3 linked regions of the Homo sapiens genome follow. The protein of the gene in region 1 binds, or shares a complex with, the protein of each later gene. Each region holds a gene or a part of one and is shown in the gene's direction. Other genes may lie near its edges.

The links.
Region 2: WTAP (region 1) and RBM15B share a complex: the UniProt entries of both Homo sapiens proteins name them as parts of the WMM complex.
Region 3: the proteins of WTAP (region 1) and ZC3H13 are in contact, whole or in part, in a cryo-EM structure (PDB 7VF2), measured with the Homo sapiens proteins. Residues at the interface, in NP_001257460.1 of Homo sapiens: Asp202, Glu203, Asp206, Phe207, Gln210; in NP_001317494.1 of Homo sapiens: Arg1512, Pro1514, Gly1515, Ala1516, Ala1517, Leu1518, Lys1520, Phe1521.

Annotation. Positions count from the first base shown.
Region 1 is NC_000006.12:159,744,134-159,751,753, forward strand, and holds part of WTAP (pre-mRNA-splicing regulator WTAP), read left to right. Parts: intron 1-4,057; coding exon 4,058-4,236; coding exon of another isoform or gene 4,237-4,240; exon of another isoform or gene 4,241-4,456; coding exon of another isoform or gene 4,457-4,517; exon of another isoform or gene 4,518-5,286; intron 5,287-7,620. UniProt on the Homo sapiens protein: Associated component of the WMM complex, a complex that mediates N6-methyladenosine (m6A) methylation of RNAs, a modification that plays a role in the efficiency of mRNA splicing and RNA processing.
Region 2 is NC_000003.12:51,386,514-51,394,284, forward strand, and holds the start of RBM15B (putative RNA-binding protein 15B), read left to right. Parts: upstream 1-4,771; 5' UTR 4,772-4,886; coding exon 4,887-7,559; 3' UTR 7,560-7,771. Other genes in the region: MANF (mesencephalic astrocyte-derived neurotrophic factor precursor), read left to right, coding at 1,224-1,365, 2,392-2,576. UniProt on the Homo sapiens protein: RNA-binding protein that acts as a key regulator of N6-methyladenosine (m6A) methylation of RNAs, thereby regulating different processes, such as alternative splicing of mRNAs and X chromosome inactivation mediated by Xist RNA.
Region 3 is NC_000013.11:46,049,747-46,056,933, reverse strand, and holds the start of ZC3H13 (zinc finger CCCH domain-containing protein 13), read left to right. Parts: upstream 1-4,187; 5' UTR 4,188-4,530; intron 4,531-4,944; exon of another isoform or gene 4,945-5,002; intron 5,003-7,187. Other genes in the region: CPB2 (carboxypeptidase B2 isoform 1 preproprotein), read left to right, coding at 1,085-1,172, 3,136-3,320. UniProt on the Homo sapiens protein: Associated component of the WMM complex, a complex that mediates N6-methyladenosine (m6A) methylation of RNAs, a modification that plays a role in the efficiency of mRNA splicing and RNA processing.

The DNA of each region.
Region 1 (7,620 bases):
AAAGCCATCTGAGGACTTTATCTCTGTTCTCTTGTCCCCTCTGTGTATAGAACTGTTTTTCCTAGTGTCAGCAACCTCTTTAGTGTCTCCTTTTTAATTGTTAGAACTTTGATGTGTACTGTGTAGTATTTACTATGTCTACGTAGATCTGAAATCTAGTGACATAATTGATCATCCAGCTCTGGTAGTTTAGGCTCAATCTTACGGTGTAATTATACAAAATAATTAGAGGCAGCTGTATCCTTGTTTCTGATTTTAAAATCTGAATGTTTCTTCAATTCTTTGTGTACTCTCCCTTCATTTGGTACATATAGAAGTCTTCTTATGTGTTATTAAAGTCTTCTAAGATAGTATTCTGGTCATTGGAGACACCAAAAATCTATGGGCACAGTCCTGTTCTGTTTCTTTTGCCAATAGAATGTTCCTTAAGGTTCAGTCACAGTCCTTTTACTTCCCTTACAGAGATTGTTTAAATTTCCACAAAAGCACGTATTTACTCTTCTTTCACTTGTTACTAAATGACTTCTTCACATTTTACTTTGCTAAAGGCTGGCTTTTATCATTTTCTTTACTTTTTTTTCCCACTAACCCCCCCGCCCTTTTCTTGAGACAGGGCCTCTCTCTCATCCAGGCTGGAGTGCAGTGGTGTAATCACACCTCACTTCAGCTTCCCGAGTAACTGATTTCAGGTGTGCGCCACCAAGCGCAGCTAATTTCTTAATTTTTGTAGAGATGAGGTCTTCCCTATGTTGCCCAGGCTGGTCTTGAACTGCTGTACTTTGGCAATCCTTACTCCTTGGCCTCCCAAAACTGTTGGGATTATAGGTGTGAGCCATCGCACCTGGCCCATTATCATTTTCTCTACCTTCTTAACACATTTTGTCCTTTTGTTTCTATCAGTTTTGTTGTAATTCTTACCACCACTGATACTTCTTTCTCCATAGTTACTAATGAATGTTTTAACAAATTTCCCTTTACACGAGAAATGGATCTTACCTTTAGACTGCTAGCACTTGGGAGATAGAGTGTGAATAGAAGGTGTTGATGGTAATATCTCATAGGATCAGAATGTCTTGAATTCCATTTCTCTTCCGGATTCCTACTCTTGACATCATAGTTGATGTGTGCACATCACAATGTTTGTGCTATTCATGCACATCTGATTCTCCATCTGTCCTATATGCGCTGGCAGTTTTGATCATATTACGCCTGGTCAAGGCCTTCGGTGATACCTCATCACTCTTGTCTCCTCGACCTGGATTTTAAGGTTATTTCAACTATAATGGAACCTAACCTTTTCCAGCTTTTTTTTTTTTTTAAAACAGCTGTCACCTGCATACGCCAGCTGAACAACTTCCTGTTCTTCCAATTATAATACAAGTGAGGTTTTGCAGACAGGGCAGGGCAGCAGGAGCAAAATCACAAGGAAAGGTCAAGATTATATATGGCAGATGAGGATAAAGTTTCAGGTGAGAGTGAAAAAAGATGAGGTCAGCCTGGAATCTTGGGTATTCTAGAAGAGAGGGGACTACTGAAGAATTCTTCAGCAAGAGATGTATGTGATGGATCAGATTTAGATTTACATTTTAGGTAGATCACTCTGACTTGAGTATGAAAGATAGATTTGAGAGGAACAGGACTTTAAGCAGGAAAACCAATTGTGAGGCTGTTAAAATAGTTCAGATGAAATACATGAAGCCACTGGTGGTAGCAGACAGGACAGAATAGGTGTTTTGGAGGCACAATCAATAGGACTTGTTTAGTTTGGATGCTGTTGTGGAAGGAATGAAAAAAATCTAGGGAGGAATCACAGCTTCAGGTTTGTCTTGTTTGACTGAGTAACGATGCTACTAGGATAGATCCTACAAAGATCAAATTTTAAAAGAAGAGTAGAGTGTGGTGTTAGGAAAACAGGAAATCCAGCATTCCCTCCTCCTTCCCCAAAATACAAAGTGATTAAAACAAAGGCATACATAAAGTTCTGTACAATACGAATTTAAAATTGTTCGTTAGATTTGGCAGTTAAGAGGTTGTTGGCCAAGGAAGCCAAAAGATTGGATACCCCTGCTCTAGAGGAACTGTCAAGTGGGAAGTGAGAGAAACTAAATTTAAAGAGTAGAAAGAATGGGAGTGATGTACTATAGGAGTTTGGAGGGAATAGGTTAAGCGAATGGTTGAAAGGATTGGCCCTGAGAAGGAGGGTTTCTTACCCTCTTGAGTGAAAAATAGTGGAAAGGTTTGTATTAGGTACCTGTCCTTTAAAACAGAGCTGCTGCATTTACCCTTGGTGTTTCAAATTAAGCTAAGCTTAGAAAAAATAAAATATACATCCTTAGGAATCTATTTGTGTAGATCTTTTGTTTGTCCAGCATACTAACTCATCCATTTGATCTTTTAATAATAATGCTTTATTTCTTTGTCTACATGCAGTCTTTGCCAAGTACATCAGTAGTCAATTTAGTTAGTTTTGAGCGTAAGGCATAAATTAGCCACGTAGTTACTATATTCTTAACTATATACTGTATTCTTAACTATATTTTATTTTGTTGGTAAGTAAAATCTGTCATTTTTGTTCACCTCAGTGGTATTTCTGTTTTTCATTTAGTCTTTTGCCAATCAACTCAAAATAGATTTAGGAATAAAACTAACTTTGAAAACACTTTACTCAGTGTTCTCTTCCCTAGAACATGGAATTTATTCTAGTCTGATTCACCTCTCTTTTCATGAATGAAAGTGTTGACTATTGGGTCTTTGTAAAGCTAAATAGTAACTGAGTCTCAGTCAGTGCTGTAGACTGTTTTAATCAGTCCTGTCAGTACATGGAGTGCACTGTAAGTCATGGTTTATTCTCGCTCTGTTATCTTAGCAGCTGGCTTCACATTGACTATGCAGTTGTACTAGATTTTTGCTCAGTGAAACAAATATATTCCCAAACCACTTAGTATATTTGTTCCTTTTACTAAATTTATATTAGAAAATTTTAACTGTAATCCTATTTAAGCCTTAGTATGGAGTTAGATCTTGGGCCAGATCTACTTTGAGTATGAAGAAAATGATGAATTTAATGCTAATAACTATATTTCATATTTTAGAAATGTATTTTTAGTGTGCTAGTAAATAGCACAACTGAAGTCGAAATTGAAGGTTTCATATGTAAGTAGAAGGGTTCTGGTATGGTGGAAAAAGCTCTAGACTGGGAATCAGAAGGCCGGAGAACTAGAATTGTAGTCCCGCTATGGCACTGAACTAAACAGTTGGGTTATTTAATCTCAAAATAAGCAGTTTGGATTAGGTGAGTTACTTTCCAGCTTTACAATTCTATGATTCGGATCTATTCAGAAGGGGAAAAATATGAATTATACTTTATTTTGGCTTAAGGTCCTATAGAGTTTTGCTTTTATAAAGCTGTAACAGCAACTCTTGTAGCTATAAGTACTGTATATTTTTTCCTTTAGAAATTCAAATGTGTATTTTAAGTTATAATCTTGCACCTGATGTATTTTTAGGGGACTTTACATAGAATAATTTCCACAGGTAAAAAATTAAGCAAACCAAAGACTTCATTAACTCTTAGGTAATTAATATTTTAAACTTTGCTTTTTTCCACTGGGTTGTCAGCATTTTTAGTAAATATAATGTTGATTTTCGTTTGTTTTTTGGTAATGTTTGGATTGTAAAGTAAAATGTATGTAGCCACTTTAAGTCCCAGATTTGGAGATGTAATCAAATGGCCTCAATTCCTAAGTGAGTAACCTTAAATAGTTATTTTTTTAATTGACAAATAAGTTTTTTACATATTCAAGGACTACTACATAGTGATGTTTCAATACATATAATGTATAGTGATCAGATCGGGGTAATTAGCATATTCATCAAATAGTTTTTAGTCTGTACTTTTTCTAGAAAGTTTTAAGATTTTTCTAGAGAATTTCAGGATCAAAGAGGGGAGGAGCTTAATGAAAGAGTTGGTAAATCAAGTGAATGGAGGGAGTTTTCCCCACCTTCTTATGTATGTTTCCTTTGATTTGGTCGTAATTGTTTCTTTTGCTTTGCACAGACTCAAATCCAGTACCTCAAGCAAGTCCAGCAGCCGAGCGTTGCCCAACTGAGATCAACAATGGTAGACCCAGCGATCAACTTGTTTTTCCTAAAAATGAAAGGTGAACTGGAACAGACTAAAGACAAACTGGAACAAGCCCAAAATGAACTGAGTGCCTGGAAGTTTACGCCTGATAGGTAAACAAATCATACTCCCCAGTCAAGACTTCCCTGACAGTCCCACTACGAGAAAGCTGTGGTGGGACAGCCAAGTACTCGTTTCCACACCAAGACTCAGACTTTTTGAGCCAAAAAAAAGCCACATTCTTACACTGTCCAGCTTGTAATGGTTAATGTAAAACTTACCAGATGAACCTTGTGTTTCAGCTTTTTTCTTTTCCCCTTCCCCTTGCTTCAGAGGCCTGATGGCGTCGGACTATTCCGAAGAAGTGGCCACCTCCGAAAAATTCCCCTTCTAGAACATGTAGACACTTGAGAAATGTTTCTGTTTGAAGAAAATAGAGGGAGAAACAGAAGTCTTAAGTCTGTGGCACACTGTGTCTTCAGACAGTTTGAAGGAATGAAAACCTAGAGATTTTAAATCATGAATTGAACATGTAAAATTCCAGTAAAATGTAAAAACGGAATATGCATCGCTCTTAACCTTGAGCATAGTGACTTAGAGACACTGTGTATCAGTTTTGCCAATAAGACTGTGGACTTCATGATTGTTGTTGAACTTCTGGGTCAAAACTCAAATGAGGTGAATTTTGCCTTTAAAGGGTTTATTTGCTGAGAACCAACTTTCAATAGTCATGAGAGAATCAAATAATAGATGTCCGTACAAGTAGCGCATATATTTAACCATTTAGTTTGGGGCTCTATATTACTTGCTTGAGCCTTAATCAATGTGGTTTTATTCAATGGTTTGTTCTTTGAATGGTTGCAAAAACTGTAGATAATCTTACTGAGGACTGTACAAACATGAAGGTGTGGTATCAAACTTCAGGTTGAAACTGTTTGAAGCATTATAAACATTCATTTCACAACTAGATTGTATAAGGATATTAGCTGTGATGAGACTCACTGCATTATTTTTTTTAGTGAATTTTATGAAATCCCCGTTCCATTCAACAGGCACATGTTTAAAAGAGCTTTGTCGTTGGTGTTAATGGGGGAATGTGTTCCTTCATTGTATTTGGGCCTTTTGTATTGCACTCTTGATATTAAATTAAATGTGCCTTGAAATAGTTGGTTTTTTTTTTTTTTTAAGTTCAAAGAATATTATGATGATTTTGTTGTACTCTTTAACATTTTAATTTGGGGCGGGGAGGGCCTGTTGAGAGCAGATTCATTTTGGAAATACTGTTGCTGTGCTCTTCAAAGTGAAGGAAAAGGCGCTGTGCCTCATTTTTAAAAGACCTACATAAAAGACAAGGAGACTTGACACTTGTTACTTTTATGACACTTTGTCCCAGGGTATTGCAGTAGAAAGTAATGTGGGACAGCTTCACAGGGTGTCTGCCAGAAGATAATGTGTTGGAACTGTGGGCTGGCCTAAGTAAGACATTTTGTGAATTGAAAAAAGGTATAGTGATCATTTCTAGCAAATTCATTTAATCATTTAGATAAATGAGGCATTATTTTCTTCATGCTTCCATCCAATCCTGGAGGTGAATTTTTTCCGTCAGATCATTCTATAAGTCACCAATTCAAATTTTCGCTTGGTGATAATGGAGTCTAAGATGAGTGGAAGATAAATGTTCCAGCTTGTCCCAACGTTTAAGTGCAGTTTTAACAAGGGTGACTTAAGTTCTCTCTTAATCATTCAAATCAATTGTAAGTATCATATGTTTGTGCTTTAGGGAACTGATTGTGGGGCAGAGGGTGGGTTGAAGAAGTGGTTTGTGTGACTTTTCAGCAAGAAATCTGCTTCTAAAATTCTCACTATTTGTGAGGGTTGGAGGGTAAGTAACCAGATCTGTTTGAAATTAGCTTATGTGCTTGCATTAAGGCTTTTGTAAATATTTTATGCCATTTAAGTTCACAGTAGAAATGGCCTAAGTATCTTTTTAGTAGATTTTAGTAGAAGAGTAATCCATAAAATGTATTATTAACATGTACTCAAATTGAGCAGGCATCTTTCTTTGACACTTAGATAACAGTCATGAGTTCTATGGTTTTTTTCTTGTCATTGTTAAAATTTTCTCTTTTAATAAGATAATACATGCTTATGTATAAAATTGAAATACTGTAGAGAAAGGGGGAGATGAAAAGTGAGTGTCACTCCCGGATGTGACCTTGACATCCTCATTCTCTTCTCCAAGAGCAGTAACTGCTATTACTTTTTCTTGGGTATCATCAAGATAATTTCTATGCATATACAGTTATTTTATGTATATTGTTTTAAACAAATGTGATCATACCATAAACACAGATGAGTTGCACCTTGTTTTTTTTTACTTGGTCTCTTTGGCATTTTTCCATTTTTTAATGTATCTAGACAACTACATTTTTAATGCTTACATAGTATATTTCCGTTATATTAAGGAATCATAATTTATTTGAATCACTTATAAATGGATTTTTTTCTATAAAATTGGCTGTAAGCCAGAGTATATCAGGTACTATAAATACATCACTAATTTGAAACAAATAATGGCTCAGGCAATCCCGTCTGGAATATTTCCAGTGGTGGAATGGGTTTTGCTTTGGGTTGCGTGCACGCGCACGCACGTGTGTGTCTTCGCTTTACTGTTTTTCTGTTCTAATTTTGAGGAAGAAAGATTCCCAGAAATAACCTGTCCAGTTCAGTTAAAATATTTCATTCATGTGAGAATGCACACATTTTAGAGTGTTTAGAGGTATATCTTTCAAAGTGCTTTCTATTATGTTTGTGGGTTAATCGATTTTAGGAATGGGTTGATTTTTTTGTTTGTAATTTTAAAAAATTATTTCAAAAACAACTACTTGTAATTAAATTATTTTTTCAAAACTGTGATTTTGTTAAAATTTATTTTACTAATCACTAGTTTTAAACGTGATATGACTATCTTAGCTTAGACATTTATTTATTAAAAGGTATGACTTTTTAAACGAAACCTTTTTTGCATTAGAATTTGTGACATTTTTATATGGGGTTAAGTCAGGTCACAGATTAATGTATCTTACAGTTGTCTTTTTCTACTCTTTAAAATTCATATAGTAAGAAGGTTAGTTGTAAACACCAATGAAATATATATACTTTGCAAGAAGACAGTTTTGAGAGCATAGGCAGTAAAGTGGAAGGAATTCCATTGTTTTTGACAATCTTGCATATCTCTCATTTTCCCATTGTTTAATTTCTAAGTGGATGTTCAGTGGAGGCTAACGCCTGAGAGTGCTGATGGGAAATGGTGGAAATCTGGAGCTACAGTAGCAGTGAACAAGAACACCAGCTAATAAAGTTATCATATCAAAGAATAAAGCCTTTACCACATGCTCACTGGTGGCTTTCACCCTCGGGCTCCTCTGAGCAGTAGTAACCCAGGTTGAACTCTTCAGGTATTTTCTGGAAGAAAGCTTAATTACAAACTTTTCCTT
Region 2 (7,771 bases), on another chromosome or scaffold:
CAACTGTGATTTTTTTTTATCCTGTTAGTCTTTATTAAGCACCTACTATGTGCTAGGCACTGGGAATATCAGGGGAAAGAAGTGACAGTCGGACACACAAATAATGCAATGTCTGGGTGTCATGAAGAAAATGGACCAGCAGGTGCTGATTTAGAGTGGCCAAGAAGTCTCTGAGGAAGGGTTATCATTGAAGTGGGGTAAGACCATCCCATACAGGGAACAGCAGTGTGAGTGCCCAGAGGCCTGAAAGAGTGTGGCATGTATGTGGACAGGAGAAGGTGACAGGGTGCCTACAGGATAGGCAAGGGCCGAATCCAAGACAAAAGCCCTAGTGAAGCAATGGGTTTTCTAACTTGAATTTCTCTGACAGTCTCTGGCTTTTCTCTCTGTTAAAGGTTTGAACCCTGGTGACACTTAAATTCATTTGGTGGCTGTCAGCTTGGACTGAGCATGTGTTAAGAGTCCAGGGTTTACACTGGCTGAATCTGACTACCAGTACAGGCAGGGCACCGAAAAATGCCGCTGTGGGCCAGGTGCGGTGGCTCATGCCTGTCTTCCTAGCACTTTGGGAGGCCAAGGTGGGAGGATTGCTTGAACTTAGGAGTTTGAGATCAGCCTGGGCAAAGTGGTGAAATCCTGTCTGCACAAAAAAATTTTTAGGCTAGGCGTGGTGGCTCACACCTGTAATCTCAGCACTTTGGGAGACCGAGGTGGGTGGATCACCTGAGGTCAGGAGTTCAAGACCAGCCTGGCCAACATGGCAAAACTCTATCTCTACTAAAAAATACAAAAATTAGCCAGGCATGGTGACAGGCGCCTGTAATCCCAGCTGCTCAGGAGGCTGAGGCAGGGAGAATTGCTTGAACCTGGGAGGCGGAGGTTGCAGTGAGCCGAGCCAAGATTGCGCCACTGCACTCCAGCCTGGGTGACAGAGCAAAACTTTATCTCAAAAAAAAAAAAAAATTGTTTTAGTTAGCTGGGTGTGGTGGCCCACACCGGTAGACCCAGCTACTAGGGTGGCTGAGAGGGGAGGATCACCACCCAACAGATTGAAGCTGCAGGGAGCCGTGATCATGCCACTGCATTCCAGCCTGGGTGACAGGGAGCCCTATCTCAAAACACAAGTAAGGCCCTACAGAGAGATGATGTTTCAAGGTGTCAGTATGTTTGGAGGAGATGGCTCTCAAGCACCTCCTGAAGGCCATTGTCCTTTATTGCTCCAGTGCTACTATATCGGGGCCACAGATGATGCAGCCACCAAAATCATCAATGAGGTATCAAAGCCTCTGGCCCACCACATCCCTGTGGAGAAGATCTGTGAGAAGCTTAAGAAGAAGGACAGCCAGATATGTGAGCTTAAGTATGGTGAGTATGCCTAGTCCTTTCTTAATGAATGCTGTGCACCTTCTGGGTTTGTTTCCCATCTGGGAGAGGAAAATGATGAGCTAGAGTCATGAGTGGGTTGTATTGTATGACAGATGGTGCTAAATGCTGGAGGGCTCTGGCATGGAAGTGGGTGGAGGTCAGAATAGGCCTTATTGAAGAAGTGATATTTCAGCAAACTTTGAAGGAGGTGAGGATTAGCCAAGAGGCCAGCTAATGGAAGAGGATACAGGCAGGATAAAGGTGTCCAGTGGCATGGCAAGTCAGAGAGCATTGCAGGCTGGTGAGGGCTTTTAATCTGCGTGAAGTTAGGAGCATTAGGAGTTTTTCAGCAGAGAAGGGACATAGTACGACTTGGGTTTAACAGGCTGGTTCTGGCTGCAAGCTCTGAAGCCCCAGTGATTTTTACTATTCTGAAAAGAAACACTATGTCCAAGCATGCAAGCCCAAGAGTTAGGAACTACAGCATCTCTCTTGCTGACTGGGTCTCTGGTGTACATAGTCCCAGTCTTCAGAAACAGTCAGGGCCTCTTCTGAAAAACTTGAATGGCCAAGGACCTGTGTTCACCTACTTGCGTCTTCCTGGTACAGGTCCAGTTGGCTCCAGGTCACTGTGGTCATGGAGAGTAAGTTCCTAACTCAAAGGCCTGAGCAGGGCTGCTCTTTGGCACCAGCCTGGAGTTGTTAGTATGTGGTGACTATGTCAGAGGCACTTGGAAGATGGGAACCATGTTTCTCCTATAAGGACAGTGTGGCCTCTGTCCCTATCCTTGTTCACGCTGCATATCTGTAGTAGACATAATATGTAGCCAGCCTTCCTGGTGAAGAGGCTAGTTCCCTCTTGTGGGGGCAGTAGGCACTGACATGCCTGTAAATGTGTCTGGAAATGTCTCTTCCTCTGAAACCAGTAGGGCTGGTTTGGCCGTTCAGGGAGTGACATACTCTGGGACTACTGGGGGACTGCAGGTGCTCCACCCAGTCAGTGACTCTCCCTGCTCTCTCCTCCAGACAAGCAGATCGACCTGAGCACAGTGGACCTGAAGAAGCTCCGAGTTAAAGAGCTGAAGAAGATTCTGGATGACTGGGGGGAGACATGCAAAGGCTGTGCAGAAAAGTCTGACTACATCCGGAAGATAAATGAACTGATGCCTAAATATGCCCCCAAGGCAGCCAGTGCACGGACCGATTTGTAGTCTGCTCAATCTCTGTTGCACCTGAGGGGGAAAAAACAGTTCAACTGCTTACTCCCAAAACAGCCTTTTTGTAATTTATTTTTTAAGTGGGCTCCTGACAATACTGTATCAGATGTGAAGCCTGGAGCTTTCCTGATGATGCTGGCCCTACAGTACCCCCATGAGGGGATTCCCTTCCTTCTGTTGCTGGTGTACTCTAGGACTTCAAAGTGTGTCTGGGATTTTTTTATTAAAGAAAAAAAATTTCTAGCTGTCCTTGCAGAATTATAGTGAATACCAAAATGGGGTTTTGCCCCAGGAGGCTCCTACCAGTTTCTGCTTTCCAGTTGCAGAGTTTGGGGGGTTATTCATTCCCATTTATCTCTCAACCCACCAGTGCTGAAAATACCAGAGCAGGACATAGGGGCTGGGGCCAGCTGATGTGTGTGGGTGTGTACCACTAGAGGGCAGCAGGCACTCAGCAGAAAGGAGGTGGCGGGGGCGGGGGGTGCTGCGCTTGATACCCTGCCCCTTGATACAGTATCTGTCTTACCCGCCCAAGAGAGCTGGAGGCCACAGCTCTAGGAGGAGTGAGTCTGGGATACATTGGAGGGCCTTATATTGTGGCTCAGTACAAGCAAGACAGGGTGTCTGGAGTGTGGTTTTTCCACAAGGATATCTTCAATCAGTGCACGTCAGCACTGACATCTCTATAAAGATGCTGTTGGCCTGGCCACCTACTTGCTCTTTTGTCCATTCCAAGCCTCTGATGTCTGTTCCAGTTTTTGCAAGTCTGGCAGGAGTCAGCTTATACAAAGAGGGAGTGGGAAGCTGCCTTTTGCCTTTGTTTACCCTAGATTAGTCTAACAGTTGAGGTCCAGGGTTTTGCTGGAGTCTGCTTCTTAAGCCACTCTCTGTGGCACTGGTGCTTAGGAAACCCAGTTGTTAGTGTGAGCTGTGGCTCAATGAAGACACCTGTAGAAACCACCTGAAAGGACGGACTAAGAACCAGTGCTTTCCAAGTAATTGGTCTTGCCTCAGATCACTTCACTTGTGTCTCCTAAGCTCAGTTTGCCTGTAGGAGGCCTTGCTGCTGTGGAACCCATTGCTTTCTTCCAAGACCTTTCCCCCTGCACCTGCCTGAGCTACTCCAGGAGCTGCTTTCTCTTTGTGCGAAGAGGGCATGACTTGGTCTGCTCTTCCCCATCGCAAGGATTCTGTGCCAGAAATTGGGTCAGGTTCTACCATGGCTCCAGCAACTGTCCTTGGAGAATGAAAGCTTCCTCAATGGGCTTGAGCACCTGGGCACCCTTTCCCTCACCTCACCTGGGGAGAAGAGGTCGTCCTGAAGGTGATGAACAGGAGGGTACTGGCCAGCGAGGGGTCAGCGTGGCAAGGTGTGATAACTGCTGGCACTATCTGTGCATATGGCCTCTTCATCCTTGGCTCTTACGGCCCTACCTTTCCAGCCTGCTATCTGCCCACAGAAGAGGGTGGGACCCAAGAGTGGCGTTAAAGAGTCTATTCCAACTCCATCAACTGCAACTGCAGGCTTGTCTCTGCTTTCGGTTATTACCTGCGTGACAGCAATTGTCCTCACGGCCTTTTCGGGGACTGCTGCAGGTGAACCTGCACGTGGAGAATGCGCAGAATGTGGGCCTTGGGTCCTGGGCAGGGTCTAAGGATAGGCATGCATTAGTCCTTGGCGCCGTCAACGCCGGATCCCAGGCAGGAGATGCCAACGAGGGTGATGTGGGGTTTGCTCAAGCCTAGTCCTAGGACTGAGGGGATACTACATAAAGAGACCACTGACTGGGTCAATGCCCCAGATCCCAACGGCCATGGAAGCTGCCACTCCTGCTCCAATCAGCGCGGGCTCCAGTGCCTGCAAGAGGAGATAGCTGGACCCAGAGCGGCAAAGCACGGCTGGGAGCACAAAGCGTTAGGTCGTCTCGCCGGCCTCTCAGGGTTCACTACACTCCGCGTAGCCTCAAGCATCGGCCATGCGGGCCGCGCGGTGGCGCCAGAGCGCGCGGCCGGTCCCACTCACCCAGCACTCACAGGGTCACCTGGCACTGGGCGACGCAGCGCGATGAGGCAGGCCCGGCGCGGGTCTTGCTCCGCCCGCCGCAGAGTCACGTGGCAGGACGGCGCACCTTGATAACGCAATGCCCGGCCCCTCGGCGCCGCTCCCGCCCCGCCCCGCCGCCACCGCCGCGCCGAGTCCTTTTGTCCAAGATGGCGGCGCCGGGGGCGCTGCCTCCTCGGCCGCCGCCTCCGCCGCCGCCGCTGTGAGAAACCTACGGGCCGCCCGCCCGCCGCGCCAGCGCCATGAAGCGGCAGAGCGAGCGAGACTCTAGCCCGAGCGGGCGCGGCTCGTCATCGTCCGCCAAGCGTCCGCGGGAGCGCGAACGGGAGGCGGAGGCGGGCGGGCGGCGGGCGGCGCACAAGGCCTCTGGCGGCGCCAAGCACCCGGTTCCAGCGCGGGCCCGCGACAAACCCCGCGGCAGCGGAAGCGGCGGGGGCGGGCATCGCGACGGCCGCGGCACCGGGGACGCGAATCACCGCGCGAGTAGCGGGCGCTCCTCGGGCTCCGGCGCTGGCGGCGGGGGACGCGGCGGCAAGGCCTCGGGGGACCCGGGCGCCTCCGGCATGTCGCCCCGCGCGTCTCCTCTGCCGCCGCCTCCGCCACCGCCTGGGGCCGAGCCCGCGTGTCCCGGCTCATCCGCGGCCGCGCCTGAGTACAAGACGTTGCTCATCAGCAGCTTGAGCCCCGCGCTGCCCGCCGAGCACCTCGAGGACCGGCTCTTCCACCAGTTCAAGCGCTTCGGCGAGATCAGCCTCCGCCTGTCGCACACGCCTGAGCTGGGCCGTGTGGCCTACGTGAATTTCCGGCACCCACAGGACGCACGCGAGGCCCGCCAGCACGCCCTGGCCCGGCAGCTGCTGCTCTACGACCGCCCGCTCAAGGTAGAGCCCGTGTACCTGCGTGGCGGCGGCGGGAGCAGTCGGCGAAGTAGCAGCAGCAGCGCCGCCGCTTCCACGCCTCCCCCAGGGCCGCCCGCGCCCGCCGACCCGCTCGGCTACCTCCCGCTACACGGAGGCTACCAGTACAAGCAGCGCTCGCTGTCCCCCGTCGCTGCCCCGCCCCTGCGGGAGCCCCGTGCCCGTCACGCCGCCGCAGCCTTCGCCCTGGATGCCGCTGCTGCCGCCGCCGTGGGACTGTCCCGGGAGCGGGCCCTGGACTACTACGGGCTGTACGACGACCGTGGGCGCCCCTATGGCTACCCAGCTGTGTGTGAGGAGGACCTGATGCCCGAGGATGACCAGCGGGCCACGCGCAACCTCTTCATTGGTAACCTGGACCACAGCGTATCTGAGGTGGAGCTGCGAAGGGCCTTCGAGAAATATGGCATCATCGAGGAGGTGGTCATCAAGAGGCCTGCCCGTGGCCAGGGCGGTGCCTATGCCTTCCTCAAGTTCCAGAACCTGGACATGGCCCATAGGGCTAAGGTGGCCATGTCGGGCCGAGTGATTGGTCGCAACCCCATTAAGATAGGCTATGGCAAGGCCAACCCCACCACTCGTCTCTGGGTGGGTGGCCTGGGACCTAACACGTCACTGGCGGCTCTGGCCCGAGAGTTTGACCGCTTTGGGAGCATTCGGACCATTGATCACGTCAAAGGAGATAGCTTTGCCTATATTCAGTACGAGAGCTTGGACGCAGCCCAGGCCGCCTGTGCTAAAATGAGGGGTTTTCCCTTGGGTGGACCAGACCGCAGGCTCCGCGTGGATTTTGCCAAAGCAGAGGAGACTCGGTACCCCCAGCAGTACCAGCCCTCGCCACTCCCTGTGCATTATGAGCTGCTCACAGATGGATACACCCGGCACCGCAACCTGGACGCCGACCTGGTGCGGGACAGGACGCCCCCACACCTTCTGTACTCAGACCGAGACCGGACTTTTTTGGAAGGGGACTGGACCAGCCCCAGTAAAAGCTCTGACCGCCGAAACAGCCTTGAGGGCTACAGTCGCTCAGTGCGCAGCCGGAGTGGTGAGCGTTGGGGGGCAGATGGAGACCGTGGTTTGCCCAAGCCCTGGGAAGAGAGGCGGAAACGGAGAAGCCTTTCCAGTGACCGTGGGAGGACAACCCATTCACCATATGAGGAACGGAGTAGGACCAAGGGCAGTGGGCAGCAGTCAGAGCGGGGCTCCGACCGCACCCCTGAGCGCAGCCGCAAGGAGAACCACTCCAGTGAAGGGACCAAGGAGTCCAGCAGCAACTCCCTCAGCAACAGCAGACATGGGGCTGAGGAACGGGGCCACCACCACCACCACCACGAGGCTGCAGACTCTTCCCACGGGAAGAAGGCAAGAGACAGCGAGCGCAATCACCGGACCACAGAGGCCGAGCCCAAGCCTCTGGAAGAGCCAAAACACGAGACCAAAAAGCTGAAGAATCTTTCAGAGTACGCTCAGACACTACAGCTGGGTTGGAATGGGCTTCTGGTGTTGAAAAACAGCTGCTTCCCCACGTCTATGCATATCCTAGAGGGGGACCAGGGGGTGATCAGCAGTCTCCTCAAAGACCACACTTCTGGGAGCAAGCTGACCCAGCTGAAGATCGCCCAGCGCCTTCGACTGGACCAGCCCAAGCTTGACGAGGTCACACGACGCATCAAGCAGGGGAGCCCCAACGGCTATGCGGTCCTCTTAGCCACCCAGGCAACCCCCAGTGGGCTTGGCACTGAGGGGATGCCCACAGTAGAGCCCGGTCTGCAGAGGCGGCTTCTCAGGAACCTGGTCTCCTACTTGAAACAGAAGCAGGCCGCAGGGGTGATCAGCTTGCCAGTGGGGGGGTCCAAGGGCAGAGACGGCACAGGCATGCTCTACGCCTTCCCACCCTGCGACTTTTCCCAGCAGTACCTCCAGTCAGCACTAAGGACATTGGGCAAGCTAGAAGAAGAACACATGGTGATAGTCATCGTCAGAGACACTGCCTAGCCCAAGCCTGTCTTTCCCAGCGTCATGTTTGTGTCACAAAAGCAGTTATTTTAAAATCTGATCCCCTCTCTACCCTACCACTTTGGTTTGAATTATCTCCTGGGTTATTTTGGTTCATTTGGGTGGGGATCAAAGTCCTGTCCACCACCAAAACTAAGTTCTTAGATTTTGGGGGATTTTTTTTTTTAAACGATGAGAAGGGAATCCGGTTA
Region 3 (7,187 bases), on another chromosome or scaffold:
AATATCAAGGGATGGCTTCACTAATGCATTCAGAGGGAAATGCTGAGATAAGTGAGGAGATAAAGTAGTTACTGTCCTTGAGGAATTTACAATCTATTAAGGGGGGGAAAAACTACAAATAATAAAGTGCTGTTGATGTCAAAGATCAGCTACATTTTAGACAGGCATTGAAAGAGGATTTCTATAGGCAGACAGGGAAGGAAGGACCTTCCAAGCAAAGAAGTTGGTGTTCACCATAAGAGGATGCAAAAGTGGAGGGTGATAGCATCAGAAAGTAGATTAGGTTGGCTTCTGAAGGGGTGTGACTGTCAGATAAATTTGTATTTCATTATGTAGACAATGGGGTTACATTAAAACTTATTTTTTGAACAATGAGATGGCATAAAATAATATCCGCTGATAAATCTCTTGAGTTTTTCAAGAAGGTGACAGTGTATACCATGATGCTAGTTCCAATTTCCGAAAAGTTCCAGATAAGTGAGAACTTCAGAATAGATTTGACAAAATGAATATCAACAGACAAAATGAAGTCAAATGGGGGTCTTAGTTATTATCCTGCTCCATACCAGAGGCATAATCTTTTTTGATTTGATGAATCTATGGAAGTCATTAGACATTTTACACAAGAAGAAAATAGAAGTTGTGAGAAGGATAAGAAGTGAGTCATGCATGCATTAGGTGTTTGTATGTGTTTAGAAAGGTTGGATTTAAAGTTTGGTGATAATTTTGTTCAGAAATGGAGTACCTCTAAGCCTTTGAGATGTAGTTATACTTCATTTTCCATAATAAATGAGTTCCCAAAAAGGCATGTGATAATTTTTTTCTGCAAATTAATATATTTATTTATATAAATTATTTCAATATATTGAAATAGTTTATGTTTAAAGCCACCCAATTGTGATTGCCATAAAGTGCACATATTTTAAATTAATTTGTTTACCTTATTTATTTGCCTTTTAGATGAATCTAGATTTTCTACCTGTATACTTTGATTCAATTAATGTATGATTATTTTTTAGAAACTTCTACTTGTCATGTTTCAAAGCTGCACATTAACTGAAATTCTATATCTTGTTGCTTCCAGTCTCTAGTAGCCAGTGAAGCAGTTCGTGCTATTGAGAAAATTAGTAAAAATACCAGGTATACACATGGCCATGGCTCAGAAACCTTATGTAAGTATTTCTTCTTATGATCTTAGAGAACTTTGAGCTACTAAAGAAATCTGTGTGATCTGTTTTTCTTTGTGTATTTAATTTTTCTGAATTAAATAGGGTCACATGTAATACAACTGAATTGTAATAATTAGGAACAGAAGCATAATAGCTATGACAATGCTGAACAAAGCTATATTAATAAATGAGTTACTAAAAAGAAGCCAAAATCCTATTTAAGAAATCATATTTATCACAATCAAGTAGGAATTACAGAATTGGCATCATACTAGTTGAGTGAAGCAGAAAAGTTCATAAAACTTTTGCATGATTCCCAGGGCCACCATGGAAGGTTGTGCAGGTTGTACACTACACTAATCTAGGGCATGCCATTTGCATCAAGTGTTTTTTAGTGTTAGCCTGTTCCCAAGAGTATAGCTCATAACACATTACAGTTGATTGTCTTTAATATATATTACACACACAAAACTTGTGACAAACTCTTAACAAAAAGTTTTGATTAATTTTTGCTGAAAGATATTTAGTGAGTAACTCCTATCTACACACAGTGGGAGGACAGACTGATTTTGCCCTTTTGAAGTTTGAAGGGAGATGGGAAAAGAGGAGCATAAAATAAACCTGTAACCAGGCATCAGAAAACTACAGCCTGAAGGCCAAATCCAGGTTTTTCCTTTTTTTTTTTTTTTTAATGATTAGAAAAAAACAAAAAGAGGCCAGGTGCTGTGGCTCATGCCTGTAATACCAGCACTTTGGGAGGCTGAGGCAGGAGGATCACTTGAGGTCAGGAGTTCGAGACCAGACTGGCCAACATGGTGAAACCCTGTCTCTACTAAAAATACAAAAATTAGCTGGGCATGGTGGCAGGCGCCTGTAATGCCAGCTACTTGGTTGGCTAATGCATAAGAATTACTTGAACCTGGGAGGTGGGGGTGGCAATGAGCTGAGATTGTGCAACTGCACTCTAGCCTGGGTGACAGAGTGAGACTCCATCTCAAAAAAGGTCGAAACTGTATTTATCATGAACACTAAAATATGTACACATTTTAGTTAACATGCATTAAACTGTAACAAGTCTTCTGGCAATTGTAGCTTTCATGAGATGCTTCCCAAACTGTATTAGATAGATGCTAAAATTATAAATTAAAATTTTGGGTCAGACTTTGCCATAAACCTGGACTCAATTTAGCACCCCCCCAAAAAAAGTCAGATTATTCAATTAATGCGGTTGGAAAACCTAACAAGTTACCTAGAAAAAAATTAATTGGATTATTAACATGTCTTTCACCAAAGTAAATTCCAGGTACAGCATATATTTTCATATGAAAACCCTGCATAAACCAAGTTGAAATCTCAGTAAGGAGAAAAAATTCTTGTGAAAGGAGAAATGAATGAAAGGAGAAAAAAAGGTCTACATGCCAAACAAAGCTAATAACACTAATGTCGTTTTTATAAGCAATTGATAAAATGAACCAAGTAGACAAATGAGGAAGGACAATTGATAGGAAATATAAAGATAGCCAATAAATATGCCAAACAAATGTGCAACTCACTGATAATCAAAAAACATAAATTAAGACAGTTGGATATTATTTTTCGCCCATAAAATTATCAGAATTCATAATTCCTATTGATGGTATGGGAAGGGGAAATGGGCAAATTCATACCCTGCTTGTGGAAGTATAAATGAATTCAGTTCTTTTGACGTCCATTTGGGAACATGCCGTAATTGCAAAAAGTACAGAGCCTTAGACTAGCAAATCTATTCTAGGGAAGAATATTCTAAAGAGACAAAGAAGCAATTATGTATAAACAAGGGTACTCATTGTAAAGTTGTTTATATTAGTTAAAAACTGAAAAAAATCTAAAGGTATACAAACAAATAAACATTTAAATCAAACAATTCCCAGTTTGTAAATTAATTTGAAACGTCTGTATTTCAACAATTTCTTTCTTCTTCTTTTAGACCTAGCTCCTGGAGGTGGGGACGATTGGATCTATGATTTGGGCATCAAATATTCGTTTACAATTGAACTTCGAGATACGGGCACATACGGATTCTTGCTGCCGGAGCGTTACATCAAACCCACCTGTAGAGAAGCTTTTGCCGCTGTCTCTAAAATAGCTTGGCATGTCATTAGGAATGTTTAATGCCCCTGATTTTATCATTCTGCTTCCGTATTTTAATTTACTGATTCCAGCAAGACCAAATCATTGTATCAAATTATTTTTAAGTTTTATCCGTAGTTTTGATAAAAGATTTTCCTATTCCTTGGTTCTGTCAGAGAACCTAATAAGTGCTACTTTGCCATTAAGGCAGACTAGGGTTCATGTCTTTTTACCCTTTAAAAAAAATTGTAAAAGTCTAGTTACCTACTTTTTCTTTGATTTTCGACGTTTGACTAGCCATCTCAAGCAAGTTTCGACGTTTGACTAGCCATCTCAAGCAAGTTTAATCAATGATCATCTCACGCTGATCATTGGATCCTACTCAACAAAAGGAAGGGTGGTCAGAAGTACATTAAAGATTTCTGCTCCAAATTTTCAATAAATTTCTGCTTGTGCCTTTAGAAATACAACCATGCATTCCGTTTGCTCCACGGTAATTAGGCGATGGCCCAGAAAGGGGAGGGGTGTCAAAAACGACAAACATAGCCTCTCATTCCAGCTCAGCTGCTCAATAAACACTGTTGAACGAATGAATGAGTGGCTCTAGGTACTGTCAACAAATGCCGCATTTTGCGCATTTACAACAGCTGTTTATGGTAAGGAATTATGTAATAAAAAGAGAAAACTCACTTAAATTCACTTTTAATTGGGAATTTTAGTTCTCCCGGGCTCCCAGTTTCCTTTCCTAGGATCTCTCACAGAGCACAGATTCGATTTCCAAGTCCCGCCGCACTCTTACCGCTCGCATGGAACCTTACGCCTAGAGGGCGTGTCCACGAAGGGTGGTGTCTGCGCACTGACGACTAATCTGACGGCCGGAAGCTGCCTGGGTCTACAGAGGAACAGGGCAAACCTCTGACTTCCGGCGGCATTTTGAGGCGGTCCTCCTAGCGGCCTGGTAGTGTTTTTGTTGCCTTTTCTTAATCTACAATCTCTTCGTTATTTTTCTTCCTGCGACCCAGTTTCGCTTGACCCTGGAGAGGCGGCGGGCGGGTTGGTTCTGCTTCTCAGCCATCCCGGGGGCTCCTCGCTAGCCAAGAGCCGGTTCCCGGGAGCCGCGCGCGCATCGCTTTCTCCTCGTCGTCGTCCTCCTGGGTCCAGGCGCGGGGACAGAGTCGCCTCCCCCGCTCCTCGGAGCGGCGGCGGCGGTGGTGCCTCCGGACTGCACTTGCGAAGGGAGCTTGGGGAGGAAGTAAGCGTTCTGTGAATTGGTGTGGGTATCTGGGGAAGGCATTGAGCGGACCCGTAATGCGGAGGCCCGGGTTACCCCCCCCCGTCTTTGCTTGAGTCACTGGGATTTTGAGCTTTCCTTGAGCATCCCACCCTTAACTCTGCAATAGCCCCCTGTGCTCAGGCGTAATTTCTCACTCTGATTATGATTCTGGCATTTGTCTAAGGGCGATAAGTAGACTCAGACAATAGGCTGTACCCCTCGTTACCATTTGATGTAAGCACGGGAACCCTTGTATGGTGTTCGTATTTGTGTGCGATGGAAGGGTGCAGCAATTTGGGCTTAAATTTAGAATCTTCCTCTATACTCATTCCAGATCTGTTAGAGAAAAACATCTTACTTGTGATTGGTCTTGTTTTTTTTTTTTTCCCTCAGCAGTGATAACGATTTAGGTCCTGGGAATTGAGTGCTACTTTATCTTCACAAGCCTTAGGTAGGTAGTTTTGGCAACTGTCAGAAACGGGGGAAAGTGGAATAGAAAGAAGAGAGTCTGTTTGGCGGCATTATCTCTCTGTAATAGGCTAACGCAATTTATGTGGTTTGAAAATTATTTAGAGTTGATAATACTTGAATTATGTTGGTAAGATGTTGTTTGTGAAGGGTAGTCTTAAGGTATTTGGTTATACTATGGGGCTTTCAGGTAATTCGAACTACTTTGAAAATTATGGGAGTATGAAGTCTCTTAAGATTTTTGGATTTTTAAAGTAGTTTTAAAAATTTGGAAAACATCTTTACACCTCAAGTTTTCGAAGTCCGCGATACCGTTGGAGAATAAATACTTATGCAGTTCAGTCTATGGGTATATGGTGCCAGTTAGCGGGGTCTAGTTCTGTAACATTTGAAATTACTGGCTTTAGTACAATATATTGGAGCGTTTTGTGAATACAATCTATAGATTTTCAAATAATTTTTATTTTCTTAATGAACTATTTAGATTATAACAGATGACAGTTTCAACTAGAGACTAGCAAAGTTGATGCAAGCTTGTAACAATTGCGGCTTTAAAAATAGTTGCACTCTGAAACTAAGGCTTTCACTCTGTGCATCTGGTAGGATTCAGTTTTATCAAATGTATGCCTCTTACTGGCTTCCTGATTACTGGTCATTCTAAATGAACATTGCATATTTTGAGATTTGCAAGCTTATGTGATTTTCATATTTGTAATATGAATTTAACATACTAAAAATCCAGCAAGTGGATGGTATCTTAACATCTTTACAAATTATTAAAATTGTAATATCATCAGTATTTATAATATGCATTGGCATTTACATAGAGGAAACACATTGTTTAACTTAAATTTACTTAGAGAGTTGGTTTTCAGTGGATGATAGTCTTCCTCACCTCCTCATCTCTCCCAACTCCATCTCATATAGAGGTGGAGCTATTTCTCCAGCTGTTAGTAGTAGTTGAAGCATTAACTGCTGTTGATATAGAAAGAGTCTTTTATTCTTTTTTTTTTGTATTTTTGTATGATGCAGTTCTTTTTACTTCACTTTAGAGTAGCTACCAGCATGGGATGTTTTCTGTGCACAGTCTTTTTAACAAATTGTTTTTTCTGCATAGTACTGCAGTGTTGCTTTGCTAATTCCTATGTAGTCAGCTTAGTTCTGTCAGTTGTATTTGGAATTTAGTTTGGAATTGTTTTAGCATTAAATTTACGGAAGCAATCTGAAAGTTTGTTTTAGAAAGTTCTTTTTAAAAAATTCTCTCAAACTATGCATCAAATAAAGTTAATTTTTCTTTCTAAAAATATGAAGTATAAATGTGAAGATACCTTATTTTTAGTATCACCTTTTTAATCTTAGAAATTCAGAGTATAGGGATTTATCCTACTAGTTAGTACATTCATGTAGTTTTAATTGCCTAATTGTTTGAAATTTCCCTAATATTATGCCGCTACTCATCCGGATTAAAGTGTTATGCTTTCACTTATGCTTCCAGTAGATGAGACCTGGAAAAGATAATTAATTATGGATTGAAGTGAAGATACTAGAACGCATATGTGTTTATTGACAAGATTTTATTAATTGAGCTTCTGGAGTCATTATTCAAAAAGAGACCCTTTTGTATGCTTCTCCTTTCTCAGCCATAATTATAATGTGAACCTTCTGAGTACAGTGTTATTCTAAGTTTCTCGGGGCAAGGGAGCAGTTCCCATTTAAGACCCTCTTTTGTTGTGTCTTTATTAATAGACTCAAACTTTGTGTCCCGGATTTTCTTTTTCTTTTTCCATTTTCTTTTTTAATTGAAAAGAGATTATAAAGACTTCAGATATTCATTTGCTCTGCAAATGGAGAGGAGAAATAGGAAAATAACGAAATAGGCTTTCACTAGTGCCACTCTGTCTTTGATAATGCTCGTGTTTGAGAAAGACTTGATGATGTGGGTGGAAGTGTGATGGCAACTTAAACCAAATAATAATTTGAAAACAAAAATGGAGGAAAACCTTCATAGAAGAGTAAATTAGTAAGTTATTGGTATGACCTTGATTTCTATTCTCTATGATAGGAAAGACTTTAGTATTTACATTTTTATCTTATGGTTTCTAATTTTTCTCATATACTTTGAAGCATTTACTTGTCATGTTCAGCCTGTTCATACATAATTTGAAAAA